Linked DNA regions of Homo sapiens: region 1 is linked to region 2. The links come from fine-mapping of genetic effects on gene expression. A gene starts in region 2. The other region holds a variant in brackets. All regions are shown on one strand. Distances are between the middles of the regions.

Region 1 (5,390 bases), 73 kb before region 2:
CCACGAAATGCTTAATCCTGAAAGTCTTGTGAGAAGACATGGCAAGAAGCAGAGTCAAGCACACACCTCGATGGCAGAGAAAGGAAGAGAGTATATTTTATTCTTAAAAGCTTCTCCAATTTCCTTTACCGTTTCCTAACTGCTAGGCAGGTGTGGGAAAACAAAAATAATTTTAGTCTAATCTGGTTGGAAACTAATTCTGAGCCAATTATTTAAATAATCTCTTTAACCCAGTCTCTTTGAAATCATTGTTCTATTGTTTCGACGCCCCTTTCTCTCTCTACTTTGTTCTAAGAGATGTCTAGTATAAGGAGCAGGATCTCACATGAACTGGTTGCACTGGGGGAGTTGAACTCTGTGACCTTGAACTGGTTCTTGTGCAGGGGCTGGCATCACCTAATGTGTATCTGTCTAGTCCTGTTCCTGGTAATCCTGTTGGCACAAACTATTGATGTCTGTAGCTGATAACTTCCTGTCTATTCTTTCTTGGCTTGGCCAGAGTCTAAAGGCATCCTCCTCCCCTACTGTCTCAGCCTTTCTTGATCCTACTTTCACTACAGACCCCTCTCTGAGTACCTAAAATGTTCTCTGCCTGGTCCAAGGCCCAAGACATCCATTTGATAAGGCTTTGCTGGAATCACCTCAACTCTGTCATGGTGGATCTATAAAATGTGTACTGGAGCTGAAACCCAGGTCCTATATGTAAGTGATCTTGCTTTACCCTCTTAATCATTCTAGGATCCCTCTTTTTGGACCCCCCCCAACCCCCGCACCCTTTTTGCCTAGTATAGCATTCTACAACCAGAGTTCAGAACAGGGAGCAGAACAAAAAGCCCTGTGTGCATTCAGTAAACACTGTGTTTGCTGTGTACTAAGCACTGTTCTATGCACTGGGGATACAGTAATGAACAAAACACACAAAAATCCTTGCCTGCATGGAATTTATAATCTAGTAATCCCCTCAACCTATTGGACTTGCTTCTATCATGATACATCAGACCGTTTCCTTCGCCTCCTCTTTTCTTTAGGTTTTCTCATCTTTACAATCTTTCAAACCCTTTCTTAAGAGAATGGGTTTCCCTTAGAAATTTTTTTGTTTCTCAAACTGCCCATAGTCTTGCTGCAAAATCCTATTTTGAATGTCAGGTGTTAAACATCACCTCTCCTTCCTCTATGCATTTATTCTATTACAATCCAAATCTCCTACAGAGGCAGATGGGTGTCTTAGGCTGAATGGAGAAAGTCTTGCATATTGCAAAGGCAAATAAGAAAGTACATTAATATCTTTAGAAATACTAACTTCATTATATCAGAAACAATAATGCACCATTCCCCCCTTCCAAATTCCTGGCAGCTACTCCTTTCTGTCTCTATGATGTTGATGACTCTAGGTACCTCATATAATAAAACCATACAGTAGTTTTTGTTACTGATTTATTTCACTTAGCAAAATATTGAGGTTCATCCATGTTGTAGCATGTGATAGTATTTCTTTTCTCTTTCTTTCTTTTTTTTTTTTGACAGGATCTCACTTTGTTGCCTACGGTGGAGTGCAGTGGCATGATTTTGACTCACTGAAGCCTCATCCTTCCAGGCTCAAGTGATCCTCCCATCTCAGCCTCCCGAATAGCTGGGACTATAGGCTCATGCCACCATGCCTAGCTAATTTTGTTTATTTTTATCTATTTATCTTGTTGAGACGAGTTCTCATAATGTTGCCCAGGCCTGTCTCGAACTCCTGGACTCCAGCAATCCTCCCACCTACCTGGGCCTCTCAAAGTGCTGGGATTACAGGCATGAGCCACCATGCCTGGCCTAGGATTACTTTTTTAAGGCTGTCTAGTATTCCATTTTGTGTACACACACATTTAGTCATCTGTTAATGGACATGTGGTTTGCTCTTGGCTCTTATGAATAATGCTATTAGGAACATGAGTGTATTAGTTTGTTTTCACACTGCTGACAAAGACATACCCGTGACTGGGTAATTTATACAGGAAAGAGGTTTAATGGACTTACAGTTCCATGTGGCTGGGGAGGCCTCACAATCATGGTGGAAGGCAAGGAGGAGCAAGTCACATCTTACATGGATGGCAGTAGGCAAAGAAAGAGCTTGTGCAGGGAAACTTCCCCTTATAGAACCATCAGATCTCATGAAACTTATTTACCAACACGTGAACAGCAGGGAAAGACCTGCCCCCCATGATTCAATTACCTCCCACCGGGTCTCTCTCACAACATGTGGAAATTCAGGATGAGATTTGGGTGGGGACACAGCCAAACCATATCAGTGGGTATACAATGATCTCTTTGAGATCATACTTTCAATTCTTTTGAGTACATGCCCAGTAGTAGAATTGCTGGATCATATAGTAATTCTATTTTTAACTTTTTGAGTAACCACCATAATGTGTTCAACAGTGGCTGTAACATTTTATCTTCCCATCAACAGTGCACAAAGATTTCAGTTTCTCCACATCCTTACCAACACTTATTTTCTATTTTTTGTTTTTTTTATAGTAGCCATCCTGGTAG[A/T]TGTGAGATGGTATCTCAATGTGTTTTTGATTTTCATTTCCCTAATGGGTAGTGATGTTGAACATTTTTTTATGTGCTTACTGGCCATTTGTAAATCTTTTGGAGACATGTCTATTTAAGTCCTCTGCCTACTTTTGAATTTTTGTTGTTGTTGTTGAGTTTTAGATTAGTTCATTACATATTCTAGATATTAATCCCTTATCAGATGTATGATTTTAAAATATTTTCCCCCATTCTGTAGGCTGTCTTTTCATGCTATTGATAGTGTCCTTTGAAGCACAAAAGTTTTACATTTTAATGAAATCCAATTAATCTATTTGCTTTTTGCCTGTGTCTTTGGTGTCATATTCATTGCCAAATTCAATATCATGAAGTTTTGCCCTATATTTTCTTCTAAGAATTATATAGTTTTAGCTCTTTTGTTAGGTCTATGATTCATTTTGAATTAATTTTTGTATATGGGGTTAGGTTAACAGTCCATTTTCATTATTTTGCATGTGGCTATTCAGTTTTCCCAGCACTATTTGTTGAAAAGACTGTCCTTTCCCCACTGAATGGTCTTAGTACTGTTGTTGGAAAACATTTGACTATATATACTGGGGTTTATTTCTGGGCTCTCTATTCTATTTCATTTGTCTATCTATATATCTGTCTTTATGCCAGTACCACACTGTTTCAATTACCAAAGTTTTGTAGTAAGTTTTAAAATCAGGAAATGTGAGTCCTCCAATGTTGTTCTTCTTTTTCAAGATTGTTTTAGCTGTTCAGGGTCCCTTAAGATTCCACATGAATATTAAAACTAATTTTTCTATTTCTGTAAAAAAAAAGTCAATCTGTAGATCACTTTGGGTAGTACTGACATTTTGACAATATTAATCTTCTAATCCATGAACCATGGGATGGTTTTCCATTTATTTATGTCTTTCTTAATTTCTTTTAGCAATGTTTTATAGTTTTCAGTGTACAGGTCTCCTTTTGGTTTGTGAATTCCTAAGTTTTTAAATGCTATTTTAAATAGAATTGTTTTCTTAATTTCCTTTCAGATTACTCATTGTTAGTGTATCAAAATGCAATTGATTTCTGTGCATTGACTTTGTATCCTGCTGCTTTGCTGAATTCATTTATTCTAACTGTGTGTGTGTGTGTGTGTGTGTGTGTGTGTGTGTGTGGTATCTTAGTTTCCTACATATCACATCTGTGAACAGAGATAATTTTACTTGTTCCTTTTCAATTTGGATGAAGCTTTCATTTATTTGTCTTGATCAATTGTTCTGTCTAGGACTTTCAATATGTTGAATAGAAGTGGTGGAAGTGGTTATCCTTGCTTTGTTCCTGACCTTAGAAGAAAAGTTTTCAGTCTTTCACTGTTGAGTATGATGTTTGCTGTAGATTTTTTTACATATGGCTTTTATTAGGTTGAGGTAGTTTTCTTCTAGTTTGCTGAGTGTTTGTATCATGAAATGATGTTGAATTTTGTCAAAAGCTTTTTCTGCATCAATTGAGATGATTCTTTATTTTTTATGTTTAATTTTTTTTTTTTTTTTTTGAGACAGAGTTCTCACTCTGTTGCCCAGGCTGGAGTGCAGTGGCGTGATCTTGGCTCACTGCGACCTCTGCCTCCCGGGTTCAAGTGATTCTCCTGCCTCAGCCTCCTAAGTAGCTGGGACTACAGGTGTGTGCCACCACACCTGGCTAATTTTTGTATTTTTAGTAGAGACAGGGTTTCACCATGTTGGCCAGGTTGGTCTTGAACTCCTGACCTCAAATGATCCGCCTGCCTCGGCCTCCCAAAGTGCTGGGAATACAGGTGTGAGCTACAGTGCCTGGCCTCTTTATTTTTTAAAGAATACATATTTTCTTTTCCTTTTTGAAGTATCACAGGAAAGGGCTTGATTTTGCTATATCTTATAGCAGCATGGTAAATTTATGGTTAGCATAGTGCTAACCATGATGCATTTACTGTCTTTTCAAAAGCTTTAACTTTGGTTAGTTTTTTTTTTTTCCTCAGTTTTGAATAGGAATTGATTTGACAGCTGATTTTGTGTGTCCTTTGCCCAGCTCAGAAGGGTGGAAAACAAACCTGTCAAAACAAAGCTCTCAGAGTGGCAAAATTCCTAAGAATGCATCAGGTATCCTGACCTAACAATTAAATGTCTGTCCTACTAGAGGGTGAGCTTATTGAGAGGAGAAAATATCTTTTCTCCGGAATCCCCAGCACCTAAAACATTGCCTGTTGTATAGAAAACACTCAATAACATCTTGAGAAGGAATCCAAGAACAGTGTGTCTCTTGCCCTTTCTTCCCTGTCCTTTCCCCAAGAGAGAATACATCAAAATCAGTAACTTCCATATAGTTAATTTACTGTGAAGTATAAATATGAAAACATTCAAGTTCTACAAATAGTGCAAAAGTGAGCAGTTATGACATTTGACAAACTATTGTTGAATTGAAAGGTTTAGAGTTTGGTATTAAGAAAGGACTGTACTCTCTCATGTACTCCATGTCATAATTGATTGCTTTCTTTTTCCAAAGCTATATAGACTCATGTATTATCCACTTCTTCTTCTTTTTTTTTTTTTTGAGACGGAGTTTCGCTCTTGTTGCCCAGGCTGGAGTGCAATGGCGCGATCTTGGCTCACCGCAACTTCCGCCTCCCAGGTTCAAGCAATTCTCCTGCCTCAGCCTCCCGAGTAGCTGGGATTACAGGCATGCACCACCATGCCCGGCTAATTTTGTATTTTTAGTAGAGACGGGGTTTCTCCATGTTGAGGCTGGTCTCGAACTCCTGACCTCAGGTGATCCGCCCGCCTCGGCCTCCCAGAGTGCTGGGATTACAGGCGTGAGCCACTGCGCCC
Region 2 (5,390 bases):
GAATGATAAGGTGGAATTATAGCTGGGGACATGGAGAGAAATGATAGTCTCAGAAGGGGTGGTGTTTTATTTATTTATTATTTATTGAGATGGAGTCTTGCTCTATTGGCCAGGTTGGAGTGCAGTGGTGTGATCTCTGCTCACTGCAACCTCTGCCACCCAGGTTCAAGCATTCTCCTGCCTCAGCCTCCTGAGTAGCTGGGATTACAGGCGTGTGCCACCACATCTGGCGAATTTTTGTGTTTTTAGTAGAGACAGGGTTTCATCATCTTGGCCAGGCTGGTCTTGAACTCCTGATATCGTGATCCACCCCCCTCGGCCTCCCAAAGTGTTGGGATTACAGATGTGAGCCACTGAGCCTAGTGAAAGGGTTGTTTTAGACAAAGCTAGCCTCTCTCTCCATTCAGTTCTTCCCACTGTGTCGTACCACTTCCTAAGAGTGCTTTAGAATGTAGGGTTCTGATAATATAGTCGAAGAGTTTTTGTTTTATAGACATATCATACTTTTGGCATGCAATGGGGACAGTTCCTGGAAAGGGTCTGTTATCTGCAGAAGGCTATTTCACCACTTGAGGCTTTGAAGAACTGAAGATCAGCTGACTTAGTTTAAAACTATTCATGTTCCCAGCAGCTTTAGGATAGCAAACCAACTCTGGGTCATCTTTATTTAAAGCCTCTCTTTAATAACCTGTAGAGAGGGGCTTTTGTTAATTGTGACTAGTTCTTTAAGAGAAAGCGTAACGTGATGGTGTTCCTTTCTCTGTTCTCTCTTTAAAAATGGTTTAAAGAATTTACTGGGGTTGATTGATAACCAGCATTCACAGGTCAAGGCATGGGTCATAATCTATTTTCCAGTCTGCATATGTTGAAAGCGCCTTTGCAAAAAGGCTTTTTGCAAAGCCTTTTATAACTGAGGAAATTATGGCAGTGAATGAGAACAGACCTAACTGGCTCTGTCTTGCTTCTAATCTTTAAGCTGTCCTTGTTCATTCCTGGGCATATGCCAAACTAACTTTGGGAAGGAATCCAGTTCATGTTTTGACTCTGAAACAAAATTGGTAGTAGCCCTTTCCTGAATAGACCCCCTTCTTGCCTGGGGACCAGTCTGCCTTTGCAGGACCAACAAATTAGCTACAAGATTAGAAATTATGGTTTAGGGGTCATGCAGCCTCTGGCTCCAAGAGTCTGAACCTCCCCAAATTGCTCCTGGGGATAACATCACTATTGTAAAACCTAAGATCAGTGCTTGAGATATTTTGCAGAGCCTGGACTCGGTGGATCAGCTGATGCCACACAGACCGGTAATTGGGCTCACCCAGTTCTGCCATCCCACCCAGGAACAGAAGACAGCAAGAAAACCTCACGTCGACCCCCCATGATTCCATCTCCAATCTGACCAATTAGCACTCCCACTTCCCAAGCCCCTACCCGCCAAATTATCTTTAAAAATTCTGATCTCCGAATCCTGGGGAGACTGTGTTGAGTAATAATAGAACTCCGGGCTGGGCGCGGTGGCTTATGCCTGTAATCTCAGCACTTTGGGAGGCTGAGGCAGGTGGAATCACTTGAGGTCAGGAGTTCCAAACTAGCCTGGCCAACATGGTGAAACCCTGTCTCTGCTAAAATACAAAAATTAGCCGGGCGTGGTGGCGGGCGCCTGTAGTCCCAGCTACTGGGGAGGCTGAGGCAGGAGAATCGCTTGAACCTAGGACGGGGAGGCTGCAGTGAGCCGAGATCATGCCACCGCACTCCAGCCTGGGCCACAGACAGAGACTCCGTCTCAAAACAAAACAAAACAAAACAAACAAACAAACAAAACAAAAAACTCCGGTCTCCTGCACAGCCAGCTCTGCGTGAATTACTCTTTCTCCATTGCGATTCCCCTGTCTTGATAAATCGGCTCTGTCTAGACAGCGGGCAAGGTGAACCCACTGGGCAATTACAATGTCACTCAAGGTCTGAAATGGAATGTTTAATATTTTCAATTACATTAAAGAGAAGAAAAAAAGTAAAAAACAGGAAAACAAAAAACAAAATAAAAACAAAGATTGTTAAAAATTCAATTACATTGTCTTTTCCTAGCCCTAAAATTTTTCTTTTGCAAAAGAGTCTTGTGAAACAGATTAAAGGCTTAAAAAGAAACAAAACTCCTAAATTTCAGGGGTAATTTGCAAAATAAAAGATTTCTTTTGCATTATATCATTCACACTGCAGAAAGGTTTCGGTTCTATGCAATCTGATCTTTTTCCACTTTTTAAAAGTTAATTTGCTTTTACTTAGCACTATTATAGAACAGGTATTTTCAAATAGTTTTGCAATTAAACACAAAAACTATAATTTTTGTGGCGAAGTAGGTACTAGTTGGCAAACACTGTTCCTTAGTGTAAAACAGAATTCTAAGTTTTCAGAAATGGAGTCCTAAAACTAGCACTGGTCTTGCAAATCAAGTTCTGCAGCTTAGTTTGGGAAAGGTTCCCTTTTGGCTCAAGGCTTAACTGGCTCCACCCAGCTGCTGAAATGTGATACAAGTTGTAACAAAACCGGAAGTTGGTTAGGCTGCCTTCGCTTCTCAAGGTAAGTGTCACGTCTTTTTCCTTAATGTCAAAGCTCTTTGTAAAGCGTTAAAAATCAAATCCAGCTTAGCGACAGACTGGAGAGCGAGTGCCTGTGCTGACCAGGGCAGTCGGCCAGGCAGAACGGGTGCTGTATTCCGAAACTATGTTCTGGAGCTTGAATTGAGCTAATGAGTGTTCACTAACGAGTTAGGTTAATATGTCCTGTGACTTTGACTAACAAGCTTTAATTCCAAGATATGGGTGGTTATAAGTAGAGACGTGTTTGGGATCCTGAAAATCATTGACTTTATTCTTGCAGGAGTTTTTTTTTTGTTTTTAATTTTAAATTTAAAACTGTAGGAACTCTTTTTTTATATTTAAAGCTAGTGGCATGGTTACCTATATCAGGGTCACTTAGAACCTTATTTGGTTTTTAAAGTGGCTTTTTATCTAGAACTTTTAGTCCCCTTACCCTCCCACTCCCTAGCCCTGGTGTGTCGTTAAAATTTCAGAAAGACTCCAGGGTGGCAAGGTGTTATCACTGCACTTATTTTTGTGTGTGCTTGTCATACTGCCCTAAAGGGTAAAGGGGATTTTTCAAATTGTAAATGTGTTATTAGGAATATTTCTTAACATAGCTAAACTTTTCAGTTCAGATATTTTCATTTGCTTCTGTATTTTTATTTTTTATTTTTATTTATTTATTTATTCATTTATTTTTGAGACGGAGTCTCGCTCTGTCCGCCAGGCTGGAGTGCAGTGGCGCGATCTCGGCTCACTGCAAGCTCCGCCTCCCGGGTTCAAGCGATTCTTCTGCTTCAGCCTCCTGAGTATACTGCTGGGATTACAGGCGCCCGCCACCACGCCCGGCTAATTTTTTGTATTTTTAGTAGAGACGGGGTTTCACTGTGTTGGCAAGGATGGTCTCTATCTCCTGACCTCGTGATATGCCCGCCTCCGCCTCCCAAAGTGCTGGGATTACAGGCTTGAGCCACCGCGTCTGGCCTATTTATTTATTATTTTCGAGACGGAGTGTTGCTCTTGTGGCCCAGGCTGGAGTGCAACGGCGGGATTTCGGCTCACTGCAACCTCTGCCTCCCGGGTTCAAGCAATTCTCCTGCCTCAGCCTCCTGAGTAGCTGGGATTACAGGCAGGCACCACCACACCCGGCTAATTTTGTATTTTTAGTAGAAACGGGGTTTCTCCATGTTGGTCAGTCTGGTTTCGAACTCCCAGCGTCAGGTCATCTGCCTGCCTCGGCCTCCCAAAGTGCTGGGATTACAGGCGTGAGCCACCGCGCCCAGCCACTTCTGTATTTTTAAAAAAGTGGTAAGATTTGAGTATTATACTGGGATAGAACTGAAGTTGGGGGCTTAATTTGATCTATCAGCTTATTGAAAACAAAGACCTTTTAAGAGATGGTTTTGTTAGGTTGGAGAAGTGAGTTTTAGTTCGTCATTTAGTTAGCCAGTATGTTGATTTTTTTGGTGAAGTGTACTCTCTGTTTCACACCTGTCAGCTTTTTTAATATTGGATTTTCTCAAAATTCACATAACAATCACACTGTATGAGTACTGTTTTGAAGGTTGTCTGCTAGTCAGAATGAATGGAGATCAATGTGTAGGACACCTTTACTGATATCCAGAGGTTTACCAAAAGACAAGTCACCAAATGTGGCAGAAAAACATGATAAAATTTATTAGGAAAAACTAAAGCTTATGGAGTGAACAGTTATTTCAGGTTGGTGGAATTAGGCAAGAATCCAAGAAAGGAAGACAGTTTTATATGGGAGACTTTGTTAATGGTGGTCATTGTGCTAGATATTTTGGAGATAGTATTTTATTTAATCCTCATGCAAGCCATTGATATTGGTGGCATTGTCTCTAACAAGTGAGAAAACTAAGACTCAGTAAGGTTAAATAATTTGTCCAGGGTCACTATGGTGGTGCCTGCTGGATTACATTAATGGACAGATTCAAACCTAGGTCTGTGATATTTCAAAGTCCATACACTTCATTGTATCATAGGACAGTAGTTGACGGCGTTTTAAATGGATCTTGAAAGAGGGGTGAAGGTCTTCTTTATCAAAACAAACAAAAATAGTAAAAGTAACATAGAATGTTTGAAAATAGAAAAAAGAAAATATCTAACCACCTTCAAATCAGTTTCTGTACAGTCTTACATGTACATACTTTGTAGTGTTTTTTGAAATTATAAAACACTACATGCTTTAAAAAAAATGCACATTATAAAGGGCATTAAAGAAAGGAAGCCCACTCTTCCCATCCTGAAAACACATACCTTCCTAAGGGGTAAACACTGTTGAGAACAATTGGAAGCATGTATAAAGGTTTTTTTCTTTTCCTTTTAAGTTATGTATATTTTGGTACATTCCATATCATTTTGCAGTTTTCTTGTTTTGATTCCTCAGTGGAGCATGAGCATGTATCTTCTTAACATGCAGATTCATGTCTTGGGATTTTTGTGAAATGAGTTCATACTTGCAAAGTACTTAAAACAATGCCTACCTCCTAGAATGCACTCAATAATTATTAGCTGATGTATTTGTTATCTGTTTACTCTATTTCATTTTGTTAACGTTTAGCAAGTATTATATAGTTTGGGTATAGCGTAGTTTATTTTTGTAACCACTTAAATTATCCAACATTTTTGCTACTGGAAATAATCCTTGCTTAACTGTATGGGTTTTTCTGTAAGATATATTTCTTTTCTTTTCATTCTTTTTTTTTTTTTTTTGAGACAGAGTTTCACTCTTGTTGCCCAGGCTGGAGTGCAATGGTGCCATCTCGGCTCACCTCAACCTCTGCCTCCAGG

The links. PIP is the estimated chance that this variant, and not a neighbour inherited with it, causes the effect. A credible set is the group of variants that fine-mapping cannot tell apart.
Region 1: its variant is the best candidate, but not a certain one, in a credible set for the expression of FRRS1 in whole blood (TOPMed, PIP 0.57).

What each region holds. Positions count from the first base shown.
Region 1 is chr1:99,837,260-99,842,649 of GRCh38, reverse strand. It overlaps the pseudogene RPL39P9. Among named protein-coding and RNA genes, the nearest start is that of AGL, 10 kb to the left of the region's middle. The variant A/T (reference allele first, on the strand shown) is at 2,536.
Region 2 is chr1:99,763,791-99,769,180 of GRCh38, reverse strand. FRRS1 (ferric chelate reductase 1) reads left to right here and starts at 2,546. Exons shown (of 17, transcript NM_001361041.2): 1 at 2,546-2,574.